Homo sapiens: one gene and its partners. Changing the gene in region 1 together with any one later gene gives a genetic interaction. Each region holds a gene or a part of one and is shown in the gene's direction. Other genes may lie near its edges. The genes, in order: TSPO, MAP3K10 and AGPAT1.

Region 1 (3,644 bases):
GGGATTACAGACGTGCGCCACCACACCAGGCTAGTTTTTTATTTTTAGTAGAGACGGGGTCTCACCATGTTGGCCAGGCTGGTCTCGAACTCCTGACCTGAGGTGATCTGCCTGCCTCAGCCTCCCAAAGTGCTGAGATTACAGGTGTGAGCCACCGTTCCTGGCCTTCTGGGTCACCTATAGGGAGGTCTCCAAGAACAGAAAGACACCCTGAAACCCACTGGCTCGACCACCACCTCATAGATGGGGACACAGAGGCTCAGGAGATGAGATACCTTGGGGCAGCGATGGGTCTGGGGTCTTCGGGCCAGGAGTGAAGCCTCACAAGACCTGGAGACCCTGGGTCCCACCCTCAGTGGGGAAGGGCTCAGATTCTGCAGGGCCCGATGCTCTGTGGGGGCTGGGATGTTGCCGCGGCAGGTGGAGAGAGTGATGCTACTGGCCCTGAGAGAACCTTCTGGCACCGTTCAGAGGTGGGGTGGAGTGGCCTGCGGGTCCAATCCTGGCGCCGCAGGCTCTATGAGCCCTGTTTCAGATGAGGAAGGAGGCTGAGACGGGCGGTGACACAACTCCTGGCAAGTGGTCACGCGGCCCAGAGCAGCCCGGCAGACACCCAGCTCAAAGGGAGGGGTGGGGTGGGTTTTGGAGTCACTCGGACCTAGAAAGTTCTGTGACTTCTCATGTCTCAGTTTCCTCATCTGGAAAATGGGACCAGTCACGAGTCCACCATGGAGGCCGAGTGGGCCGTGTGGCTCAGGGAGAAGCAGCTGGTCCCCTGTGGCTGCTGTGGGGACTGAACAAGGCGGTGACCGTCGGGATGAGCACGGACTCCACCACGCAGGCCCCTGCCTACCAGAGGCCTGTGCACAACCAGAGCTGAGCAAGGCTTGGAACCTTCTCCTGCCTCTACGTCCTGCGCCCTCTACCCTGCCCCGATCTTGCCCCTGTTTTGGGGGCGCTGCTCCGTGCAGGGCATTTTCACCTGTGGAGTGTCCAGGGGCTCTCGTGGCTGATAAGGTCTCGTCACAGGTCCAAGCCTTGAGGCCCTGTCTTCCCCTGGAGGAAATGGGGCTAGTGGCCCCACACTGATACCCACAACCCCTCTCTTCTCTGGAGTTTTCAGGGAAACGTTGTTGTCCCACCCCTTCCTCCCTTGAGCTACCCCAGCCCCCCAAGAAGCAGACACAGCGGGTTTACCCACCTGACGTTGGAGGAAGCCAGGCCCAGAGACGAGCCTTGGATGGAGGCAGAGCCGAGGTCTGGATCCCGATTCGCTTTCTGAAGGAGACAAATAAAGGGTGTATAGGTGGCTTCACCCCTCTGCCTGAGCCTGAGTCCTGTCCCTGCCATGTGTGCCCCCTGGCCTGGCCCACCCCAGCTTTCCCTGGACTCATCCCAGAGCAGATATCTGGATCCTGCCTAGCCTGGCTCAGCATGACTCATCATGGTGGGTACCGCCCCTGCCCACCTGTTCCCCATTTGGGCAATTCAGGAGCTGGGCAGTTCCCCAGAGGCCCTAGGAAACTCCCCGCCCCCGACCAGGCTTTCTCCTTGTGGGGCATCTGACCGCCTGTTTTCTGGTGGGGCAGACCCTCTGAGCCCCTTGGCCCTGTGGGTCATAACCACAGCCAGGCCTGAGAAGGGGGCAGCCTGGGGTGGGAGTGTGAGCACGGGACTCAGAACTGGCTTCAGACCCTGCTCTCTTGCTGTGGCCTTGGGAAAGCCACCATGCCTCTGTGACTTTTATTCGTTCCATACAACGGGGGACCTGGATGGTGGTCTCTAAGGCCCTGTCAGTGGGAACACTGGGTGAGTCCCATTGTGATTTCCTGGGGACCGAGTGTGTGCCTGGCCCTGGCTGGGTGCTGGAGCCAGGTGACAGAATCGTGGGGAGTTCTGCCACGTGCTACAAGGTGAGGACCTCTAGAACATGGCGCTCAGTGAAGGAAGCCAGACACGAGGGCCACACACTGCGTGATTCCATTGATACCAAATGTCCAGGATGGGCAAGTCCCCAGAGAGAAGTCAGATTGCTGGCGGCCAGGGGTGGGAGGGAGGGGGAGGGGAACCACTGCTGATGGATACGGGGTTTCTTTTAGGGGTTGAAAATGCTTTGGAACTTGATACAGAGGGTGGTTGCACAACATTGGGAATATACAAATGCTGCTGAATGGTGCACTTTAAAACGGTTAATTTTAGGCTGGGCACGGTGGCTCACGCCTGCACTGGGGGTTTCCATTTGTGGCATGAACATCACTGAAAGCGCACCAGCTTCCATGTCGTATCAAGGGGTTCGGGATGTCCACGTGTCTTATGCTGGTGGTATTAACCTTGCTCGCCTGGACAGGGACACCTGTGAGTGAGAGCAGGCCATTAGTGTGGGGCAGGTGGGCCTCAACTGAGGGTGTCCTGGGAAAAGGCACGTACAGGCACCCTGGTCCGGCTCGTTTCCAGTGGAGGCTGAACGAGGCTCCTTATGGTTCCCCCACAATGTCACTCAGCTGTGGACTCACGCAGGCTCCAGCAGAGCAGCGGTTATGTCTTGGTTGCCCAGATGAGCAGTAGGCTGAGCTGGCCTGGGCTTACCTGAGAGGATGTAGTGGGAGGCTGAGCTGGGAGGTGGTCCCAGGGCTGTGGTCCAGAGCTCCATATCCACTTGGCGGTGGTGCAGGGCCAGTGCTCAGCAGTACCTCCTGCCCCAGGGAGGGTGGCCTTTCATATGTGTAGTGACATCAGACCCCCATCCCCACCCCATGAGCACGTGTACCCTGGAAGCTGGAGGGCGGGGCAGGAGGGCGGGGCGGGGCAGGAGGGAGGGGCGGGGCAGGAGGGAGCGGGAGGGAGAACACAGGAACGTTTCTTGCCGGGACATAGGTCACATGCCCACCCCCCCAGAATGTCCATCCTTACTGCTCATTTTTGCAGCGACCTTGGGGGATGGGGTAACTGTCCCCATTCAACAGGCGAGAAAACTGAGGTCCAGGGAGGGGAGGGAATCATAGTAAGTGGCAGCACCGGAATCTGCTGGATGCCTGACACTCTGTTCCTTTAAAACGTGCCGGGCGCGGTGGCTCACGCCTGTAATCCCAGCACTTTGGGAGGCTGAGGCAGGCAGATCAACTCAGGTCAGGAGTTTGAGACCAGCCCGGCCAACATGGTGAAACCCTGTCTCTACTAACAATACAAAAATTAGCCCGGCATGGTGGCACATGCTGGTAATCCCAGCTACTTGGGAGGCAGGAGGCTGAGACGGGAGAATCCCCTGAACCTGGGAGGCAGAGGTTACAGTGAGCTGAGATCGCGCCATTGTATTCCACCCTGGGCAACAGAGCAAGACTCTGTCTCAAAAAAAGCGCATATCTATGTTATCCATTTTTTGCCAAAATTGGGGTCATTCTGTAGTCAATGTTATATTCTGCTTTCTTCGTGTTATGTTGAGAACAACTTTCTCGTTACTAGAAAGCCTTCAGAAGCTTGGTTTGTGGGGGGCCAGTCTTTAATAGTCCCTGGCTGCTGGGCACTGAGGTTGCTTCTGTGCTCACCCAGCTCCATGGATCCCAGGCCAGCAGCCGCCCCTTCTCCCTGGGGCCAGATTTGCCCTTTGCCCTTTGCCCCTGCCAAAGCCCAAGTTCAGCACAGTCTCT
Region 2 (3,644 bases), on another chromosome or scaffold:
CTGGGACTACAGGCCTGCACCACCATGCCTGGCTAATTTTTGTATTTTTAGTAGAGATGGGGTTTTCACCATGTTGGCCAGGCTGGTCTCCAACTCCTGACCTCAAGTGATTCTTCTGCCTGGGCCTCCCAAAGTGCTGGGATTCCAGGCAAGAGCCACCGCACCTGGCCTGGTATGGATTTTCTTTTAACTGCCCTGGGGCAGCCCCCAGAGCCATGCGAGCAAGGCACTGAGGGAATCAAATTGACCTTTTTCCCTCTGGCTGCTGTAAGAAATAAAGGTGGAGAAAGCAGTGAGATGATGGAGGCCAGGCCAGGGTGGGGGACTTGGAAGGGACAGATGTCCACAGTCGGGGCTATATGGCAGAGACACGGTCATCGGAGTTTCCTGGTGGGTTGAAGGGTGAAAGGCTAGCTCCCAAGTTCCAACACCTCATTCACCCCAGCACTGTCCCCACCCACAGCCCCCCTGCCCTCTGTCTGGGCACCTGCTTTGTACCAGGCCCAGGAGGTCAGTCCTGCAGGGGACACAGAGACAAATACCCATACCATGGCAGCAAACACTGGCACCAGATAGGTCCAGAGCATTGCAGGTACAGAGATGAAGGCAGCTGACCCCCAGGGAACTAACTACCCAGAGCTGGAGACCAGAAGCGCAGGCAGCCCGCCAGAATGAATGGTGAAGGGTTAGGCTGTGAAGAGGAGGGGAGGCTGGAGGAGTTGGCAGGGAACCGCTCATGGCCTTCAGTGCCAGGCGGAGGAGCTGGAACCTTGTCCTGACAGCAGTAGGGGGCTATGGGGAGATATATAGCAGGGAGGGTCATGACTGGAGTTCAAAAGAGCCCTTGGACTCCCAGGCGGAGGGTGGGCCTGAGCTGGGGGCACTGGAGGCTGGGAGCCCAGTGGGGACAGATCCTCCACCCAGTAACCAAGTGGCTTCTCTGGACCCAGTGACTCCCGTGGACTGTGGTGGCAGCAGCAGTGGCAGCAGCAGTGGAGGAAGTGGGACATGGAGCCGCGGTGGGCCCCCAAAGAAGGAAGAACTGGTCGGGGGCAAGAAGAAGGGACGAACGTGGGGGCCCAGCTCCACCCTGCAGAAGGAGCGGGTGGGAGGAGAGGAGAGGTGAGGTGTGGTGTGGTCATGCCCACCCTGTGCCCAAGCCCCAGCTCCCAGGCTCCAGGCCACAGGACTGAGGTCTCCATCTCTCCCTGGACCCCGCAGGCTGAAGGGGCTGGGGGAAGGAAGCAAACAGTGGTCATCAAGTGCCCCCAACCTGGGCAAGTCCCCCAAACACACACCCATCGCCCCTGGCTTTGCCAGCCTCAATGAGATGGGTAAGAGCCTGGGTTCTTGTAAGGGGGTGGGGGTTCCCTGGCCAAAGGGGTGAGCCTCCTGGGGCTGAGCGAAGAGACCAGGTTTCACTGGGCCAGTGAGTGGAAGGCCTTCCTGGGAAGGGAGATGGTGGCCCCTGGGGCGTGGGGGGTCATTTCCAGGGGCAGGGACCACCCTTCTCTGAGGCTTCTCCTGGAGACAGATTCAAGAACGATGCTCGTGGGTCTTGGTCTTGCTGTTGGAGGGGTCATCGGGGGCTGTCCCTTGGCACAAGTCCCCGTGGGGCCCTGGCCAGCCCTGCAGCGGAGTGATGGCCCTCTCCGGTTGCAGAGGAGTTCGCGGAGGCAGAGGATGGAGGCAGCAGCGTGCCCCCTTCCCCCTACTCGACCCCGTCCTACCTCTCAGTGCCACTGCCTGCCGAGCCCTCCCCGGGGGCGCGGGCGCCGTGGGAGCCGACGCCGTCCGCGCCCCCCGCTCGGTGGGGACACGGCGCCCGGCGGCGCTGCGACCTGGCGCTGCTAGGCTGCGCCACGCTGCTGGGGGCTGTGGGCCTGGGCGCCGACGTGGCCGAGGCGCGCGCGGCCGACGGTGAGGAGCAGCGGCGCTGGCTCGACGGCCTCTTCTTTCCCCGCGCCGGCCGCTTCCCGCGGGGCCTCAGCCCACCCGCGCGTCCCCACGGCCGCCGCGAAGACGTGGGCCCCGGCCTGGGCCTGGCGCCCTCGGCCACCCTCGTGTCGCTGTCGTCCGTGTCCGACTGCAACTCCACGCGTTCACTGCTGCGCTCTGACAGTGACGAGGCCGCACCGGCCGCGCCCTCCCCACCACCCTCCCCGCCCGCGCCCACACCCACGCCCTCGCCCAGCACCAACCCCCTGGTGGACCTGGAGCTGGAGAGCTTCAAGAAGGACCCCCGCCAGTCGCTCACGCCCACCCACGTCACGGCTGCATGCGCTGTGAGCCGCGGGCACCGGCGGACGCCATCGGACGGGGCGCTGGGGCAGCGGGGGCCGCCCGAGCCCGCGGGCCATGGCCCTGGTGAGTGAGGCGCCCTGCACCCAGGTCACAGAAAACCCCTTCTTTCCTCCTCTGCCAGGGTCGCAAGTCCAGCCCAGCCACGACCCCTCAGGCAGCCACCTCCTGCTTCTTGTGGAGGAGGGAGGGTCTGTGTCCCTTTACCGCTCACTCCTGGAGGCATCGGGGGTCTCCAGGGGACTGAGACACAGGCGGCAAACTGATGCCTATAAGGCCAGGCAGGTGCCTATAGCGGTTGTGACCAGCATGACCATCGCCAATTCTTACACAGCCTAGACACTGTTCTCCTCCATCTGTTAACTGGGTGGGAGATGCGGCCATAGCAGTGTTATTAAGTACCCACGTCAGGCACTGTGCTGCTTGTTTTAAGTTATGGTTATTCTATTTGCTCCTCACCTGCGTGGTGAGGCACCATTTTTATCCCCCTTCAGAGCTAAGCCATGCCTGAGCTTAGCCCAGTGCAGGAGAGTCGGGAAGACCAGGGCTTTGGCCCCCGAGGCTGCCGCTAAGCAGCAGTTCCAGAAGGTTGAGGAACATGCCAGGGTCCACCCAGAGGAGCAAGCAGCTGGGAGTGGTCCCAGTCTAGGTCAAGGTCCCAGCACTGCCACACTACAGATGGAAACTGGATGCAGCAAGATCCACGGATTTCTCGAGAGAAACCAGAACTTGTGCTTTTCATGTAACAGCTCTGGGCTTTTTAATGCCACCCTCTGCCCCACCCCACTCACCTCCTCTGAACCTCTCTTACCAGGCCCTCGTGACCTTCTGGACTTCCCCCGCCTGCCCGACCCCCAGGCCCTGTTCCCAGCCCGCCGCCGGCCCCCTGAGTTCCCAGGCCGCCCCACCACCCTGACCTTTGCCCCGAGACCTCGGCCGGCTGCCAGTCGCCCCCGCTTGGACCCCTGGAAACTGGTCTCCTTCGGCCGGACACTCACCATCTCGCCTCCCAGCAGGCCAGACACTCCGGAGAGCCCTGGGCCCCCCAGCGTGCAGCCCACACTGCTGGACATGGACATGGAGGGGCAGAACCAAGACAGCACAGTGCCCCTGTGCGGGGCCCACGGCTCCCACTAAGGCCTGCCCACCACCGCCCGCCTGGGCAGCCATGAATGTAGCGCCCCAGGCCCTGCCCCAGCCCGCCATGCCACAAGGTGGGGGAGGCCCTGGGCAGGATGTTCACTCTATTTATTGGGGAAGGAGGGAGGGGGGGGACACTTAACTTATTCCTTTGTACCCCAGGGGGTGGAGCCCTGTGCCCACCCTGCACTGGGGGGAGGGTG
Region 3 (4,273 bases), on another chromosome or scaffold:
GAGTGGTGCAAAAGGGACAAAGCCCGCCCCTTTTAAGGAGACCCGCGGAGGCTAGACCCGCCCTTTCCTCTTTATAATTTGCCCATCAGAAATAGGGTCTTCTTCCCAGGTTGGACCCCGGGGAGTTTGGGCTTTTCCTACAATCACTGACCCTCACTGTGACTAAAGGAGCAGAATTAGGTAACAGTCCTCCCACTACCAATCCTCTTCCCGAGGGCATGTAAACTAATGCAGGGTAAAGGTGTGGCTAGAGGGGGGACCTTGATAAAAGATCCCATGTGACTCAAGAGTAAGGAAAGATGAGAAGTTAGCAGTTGCGTAAAGAAGGACTGGGGCAGATGAGGATTCAGGAAGCTTGAGGTTTAGGAAGGAAGATATTGAGAGGGAAAGGTGGAAATGAAGGAGAGTGAAGTGATGGAATGATCCTAGTAAAGGGATAATGGGAGTGGAGGAAGAGAAGAGGGGGTGGAAAACTAGATACATGGCTACCAAATTAAGGAGGCACGCGCATTCCAGAGGAATCGGCATTCTTCCTCACTTTTTATTTTTCTAGAAAGCACCCCTGAAGCCAAATTTCCATTGGAAGAAAAGATGTACCCATATTGTATGTTGTGAGAAGGGGTTGTCTCAGCTTGGGCAAGTAAGGAGACTGATACGAAGGAAGTAGGAAAGAAAAGGTACAGAGGTAAAAGAGCATGGAAAAGGAAAGGGTCAGGGATAAGGCCAAAGAGATCTCTTCTCTTTAAAGGCCAGAGAAGGCAGGTGGAGGGGGGAGCTGGACTGCTGGGAGATAGTGAGGGACAAAGGGCAAAGGAAACCAGACCAGAGGACTGGAGAGTGAGATGGAGTGAGATGGAGTCCTGGAGAGAAAAAGAAGAGAGGTGAACTTAATGCTTGTCATATGGTAGGTAGATGCTTGATAAATGTTTAGAATTGAATGGGTACGGGAAAAGGGGTCCTTAAGAATAGTTGGGGGGAATAAGCAGCAGATAACCGGAGTTGAGAAAAAAAGAGACCAAGTAAAAGTGGCAGTTAAAAGAGAGCTGATGGAGAATAAAGGAAGGAATGTGCGGAAGGAGGAATACAGCACCAGGGGATCCAGAGCTGAAAGGGAGTTAGAGAAAAAAAAGATGCAGCTGGAGCCAGAGATGGGGGCAAAGACCGAGGGAGAGCCCTGGGGCGGGGCTCGCAAGAGGACACTGGTAGATGTGGGGAGGAGATGCCAGAGTTTCTGGGAGACGATTGGCAAAACAGGCTGCCCATCACCGCCCTCCACTTCCTGGCCGGCCCCGGAAACCAGCAGGCGTTGGGGAGGGGTGGCGGGGGAATAGCGGCGGCAGCAGCCCCAGCCCTCAGAGAGACAGCAGAAAGGGAGGGAGGGAGGGTGCTGGGGGGACAGCCCCCCACCATTCCTACCGCTATGGGCCCAACCTCCCACTCCCACCTCCCCTCCATCGGCCGGGGCTAGGACACCCCCAAATCCCGTCGCCCCCTTGGCACCGACACCCCGACAGAGACAGAGACACAGCCATCCGCCACCACCGCTGCCGCAGCCTGGCTGGGGAGGGGGCCAGCCCCCCAGGCCCCCTACCCCTCTGAGGTGTGGGCGGGAAAGGGATGGGAGGAGGAGGGAAGAGGGTGCTGAAAGCGACTAGGATGAGGGGAAGGGGAGAGATTGGGTCTGGGAGGGCCGACTGGGGGAGAGGGTTGCTGGGGAAAGGAGAGGGGCCGACTGGGAAGAGGGTTGCTGGGGATAGGAGAGGGGACCTGAGAGGGAGGAAGGATGGAAGAGACCTGGGAGGGAGGAGAAATGGAAACCCTTGTGAATTTGGGACTGGGAGCGTGCACAGGGAATCCTGGAGAGGGAATTCCCTACACCTTCCCCAATTCCTTTTCTTGCCCTTTGACCCCACATGACTCTTGAAGGGTCATGAGGGGAGAAGGCCAGCAGAATTTGCCTCTTAGGAATACCCTTAGGTGCCTCTGTTTCCATCTAGGCACAGGACCTCTTGTTTCTCAGTGGCCTTCCACACTGCTAGACCCTTACTGACACACAAATGCCTTATGGGAGCCATGTTTTCTACATTGAGTCTGTGTGCCTTTGACATGTTTAATGGCTTGTGTGCAACTAGGTTGTCCCAATGCTATCCATAGGCTGTGTAGAAATGGTGTGTTATTTTCTATCAGAATTGCCCATTCTTCATTCTTGTGTCCATGTCTCACATCCAGTTTTGACATGTTTTAAGTACCGCATGTGTGTGAGTTTTCATATATTGCACCTGTTCTATAATTTCATGTTACTTGCACATTTTATGTTTTGGCATGTTTATTTCAGCATGTGAAGGTTATATACCTTATTTTGCTTTGGCTGACATGTCCATGGTCCTACCATTTGCAGTAGTCTTCATGTGTGGGATCCCATGGCTTGGCTGAATACCCCACACTCTGATGTCTGACTGAATTGGCCTGTTTGCTGTGTTTTCCCAGTCACAGTTCACAGAACACATGTGTATGCGCCTTTGCATGATACACTGATGTAACAGGACCATAGAATGTGTGTTATAAATTTGTCATCAGTATATTTTGTGAGCCGTATGCTCATTAAATTTGGCCCTCCATTGCATTTCTAAATCCTTGGACTTTTGTTCTCCAAAGAGGGTCACTTAATATCAAGTGTTAAGAGAAGAAGGTAACTGGGTCTCCAGGTCTGCAAAGAACCATCCCTGCATGCCTTACCTTGGTGACCTCCCTGGCCCATACCTCTCTACACAAACATTATCTTTCCAGTGGCTGTGTACAGTCTGTGTCCATGAGCTCAATGCATGTCACAGGGTCAATCCTGCTGTGAACCCCATTGTTGGTATTTATTTATGGACATTATCCTCCATTCTTTGCACTGTTGGCACACATTTGATGAGAGCAGCATCTTTCCCTGTGGCATCTTGATCCCATTCGGTACATTTCTCTTGTGAGATGACCTCTTCCTGATTATTGTTACTCTGCCTTCATTATGGCTATGTATTGCATGTATCTATTCAGAGTCGGTTACCATTAGGCTTGGTGTGTTCGTTACTTTCTCAGTGACTTCTTTTAGTAGTCACTTCTACTCAAGAGGATAACTATCTAATTTGTGATCAGAACCGCCATCTCTGTCATTAACTGTGGCTCTATGGGTGGGTATACAGCCTTAGAATCTGTTCAGCAAGTGTTTATTGAGCACCTACTCCATCTCCTATTGTCCTGGCACTGGAGATAAGACAGAGTCCCTGTCCTTAAGCTGCTTACAGCCTAAGGAGGGAAACAAAAACGCCAGTCAACACATAGTGTGTTGTCAAGATCAGTGGTTCTTAAATTCAGGCGCACATCAGACTCACCAGAGGGCTTGTTGAAATACAGATTGCTAGCCAGCCACGATGGCTCACACCTGTAATCCCAACAGTTTGGAAGGCTGAGGCAGGAGGATCGCGTGAGTCCAGGAGTTCAAAACCAGCCTGAGTGACAGAGTGAGAAAAAGAAAAACAGATTGCTGGACCTAATGCCCAGAATTTCTGATTCAGTAGATCTGGGGTGAAGTCTAATAATTTGCATTTCTATACTTCGAGACCCGCTGATCAAGATAAAAGTGTAAGGAAAGCACAGGCCTGGAGGGGTTCAGGCAGCCCTCCAAAAGGTGACACTGAGCTGTGTGAGGCAGGAGAAGAGACAGGCATTCCAGCCAAAGGGAACAGCATGTTCAAGGTGGGGAAGCATGAAAGATCATGGTGTCTGAGGAACTGAAGTGAATCAGTTTGACTGGAACAAAGAGTTTTGTGAGGATGTGGTCGAAGATGTAAGCAGAAGTCAACTTATCAAGAAGAGCCTTTAGGCAAGACAGGGAAATGCTCTGTGTTTCAGAAAAATCTGTGCTAACAGAAAAATCTCTGTGGTTGCTACGTGGAAGATGGATTGGAGGGAGTTGGGAGCCTACTCCACATAGTTCAGGGGAGAAATGATGCTGTTCTGAACTTGTAGGGGCAGTGGGATGGAGCAGCTCAGAAAGCCTACGGTATTCCAACTGGCAGGGTCTCCTGTTTCCTCTATTGCCTGTTACCTTCTCGCTTGGCAATAGGCTTACCTTTGAGCATAGCCCTTCCCATCATGGGAAGACAGTGCCTGTGGCCTCAGTAGGAATGACAGGTATTTGCCTGAACACCCTTTTTGTGAATTGTTACCCTGCCCCCAACACTGGGGCAGAGTGGAGGAAGGAGGAAGAACCTAGAACACAGGTTCTGTG

Evidence for each region.
Region 2: changes in TSPO (region 1) and MAP3K10 together harm fitness more than expected from each alone (negative genetic interaction), as found in Homo sapiens cells (one large-scale study listed by BioGRID).
Region 3: changes in TSPO (region 1) and AGPAT1 together harm fitness more than expected from each alone (negative genetic interaction), as found in Homo sapiens cells (one large-scale study listed by BioGRID).

Annotation. Positions count from the first base shown.
Region 1 is NC_000022.11:43,154,492-43,158,135, forward strand, and holds part of TSPO (translocator protein), read left to right. Parts: exon of another isoform or gene 1-1,447; intron 1,448-3,644. UniProt on the Homo sapiens protein: Can bind protoporphyrin IX and may play a role in the transport of porphyrins and heme. Promotes the transport of cholesterol across mitochondrial membranes and may play a role in lipid metabolism, but its precise physiological role is controversial.
Region 2 is NC_000019.10:40,211,855-40,215,498, forward strand, and holds part of MAP3K10 (mitogen-activated protein kinase kinase kinase 10), read left to right. Parts: intron 1-950; coding exon 951-1,122; intron 1,123-1,221; coding exon 1,222-1,334; intron 1,335-1,534; coding exon of another isoform or gene 1,535-1,662; coding exon 1,663-2,367; intron 2,368-2,795; coding exon of another isoform or gene 2,796-2,812; exon of another isoform or gene 2,813-3,047; intron 3,048-3,115; coding exon 3,116-3,438; 3' UTR 3,439-3,644. UniProt on the Homo sapiens protein: Activates the JUN N-terminal pathway.
Region 3 is NC_000006.12:32,173,141-32,177,413, reverse strand, and holds the start of AGPAT1 (1-acyl-sn-glycerol-3-phosphate acyltransferase alpha isoform 1 precursor), read left to right. Parts: upstream 1-1,329; 5' UTR 1,330-1,600; intron 1,601-4,273. UniProt on the Homo sapiens protein: Converts 1-acyl-sn-glycerol-3-phosphate (lysophosphatidic acid or LPA) into 1,2-diacyl-sn-glycerol-3-phosphate (phosphatidic acid or PA) by incorporating an acyl moiety at the sn-2 position of the glycerol backbone.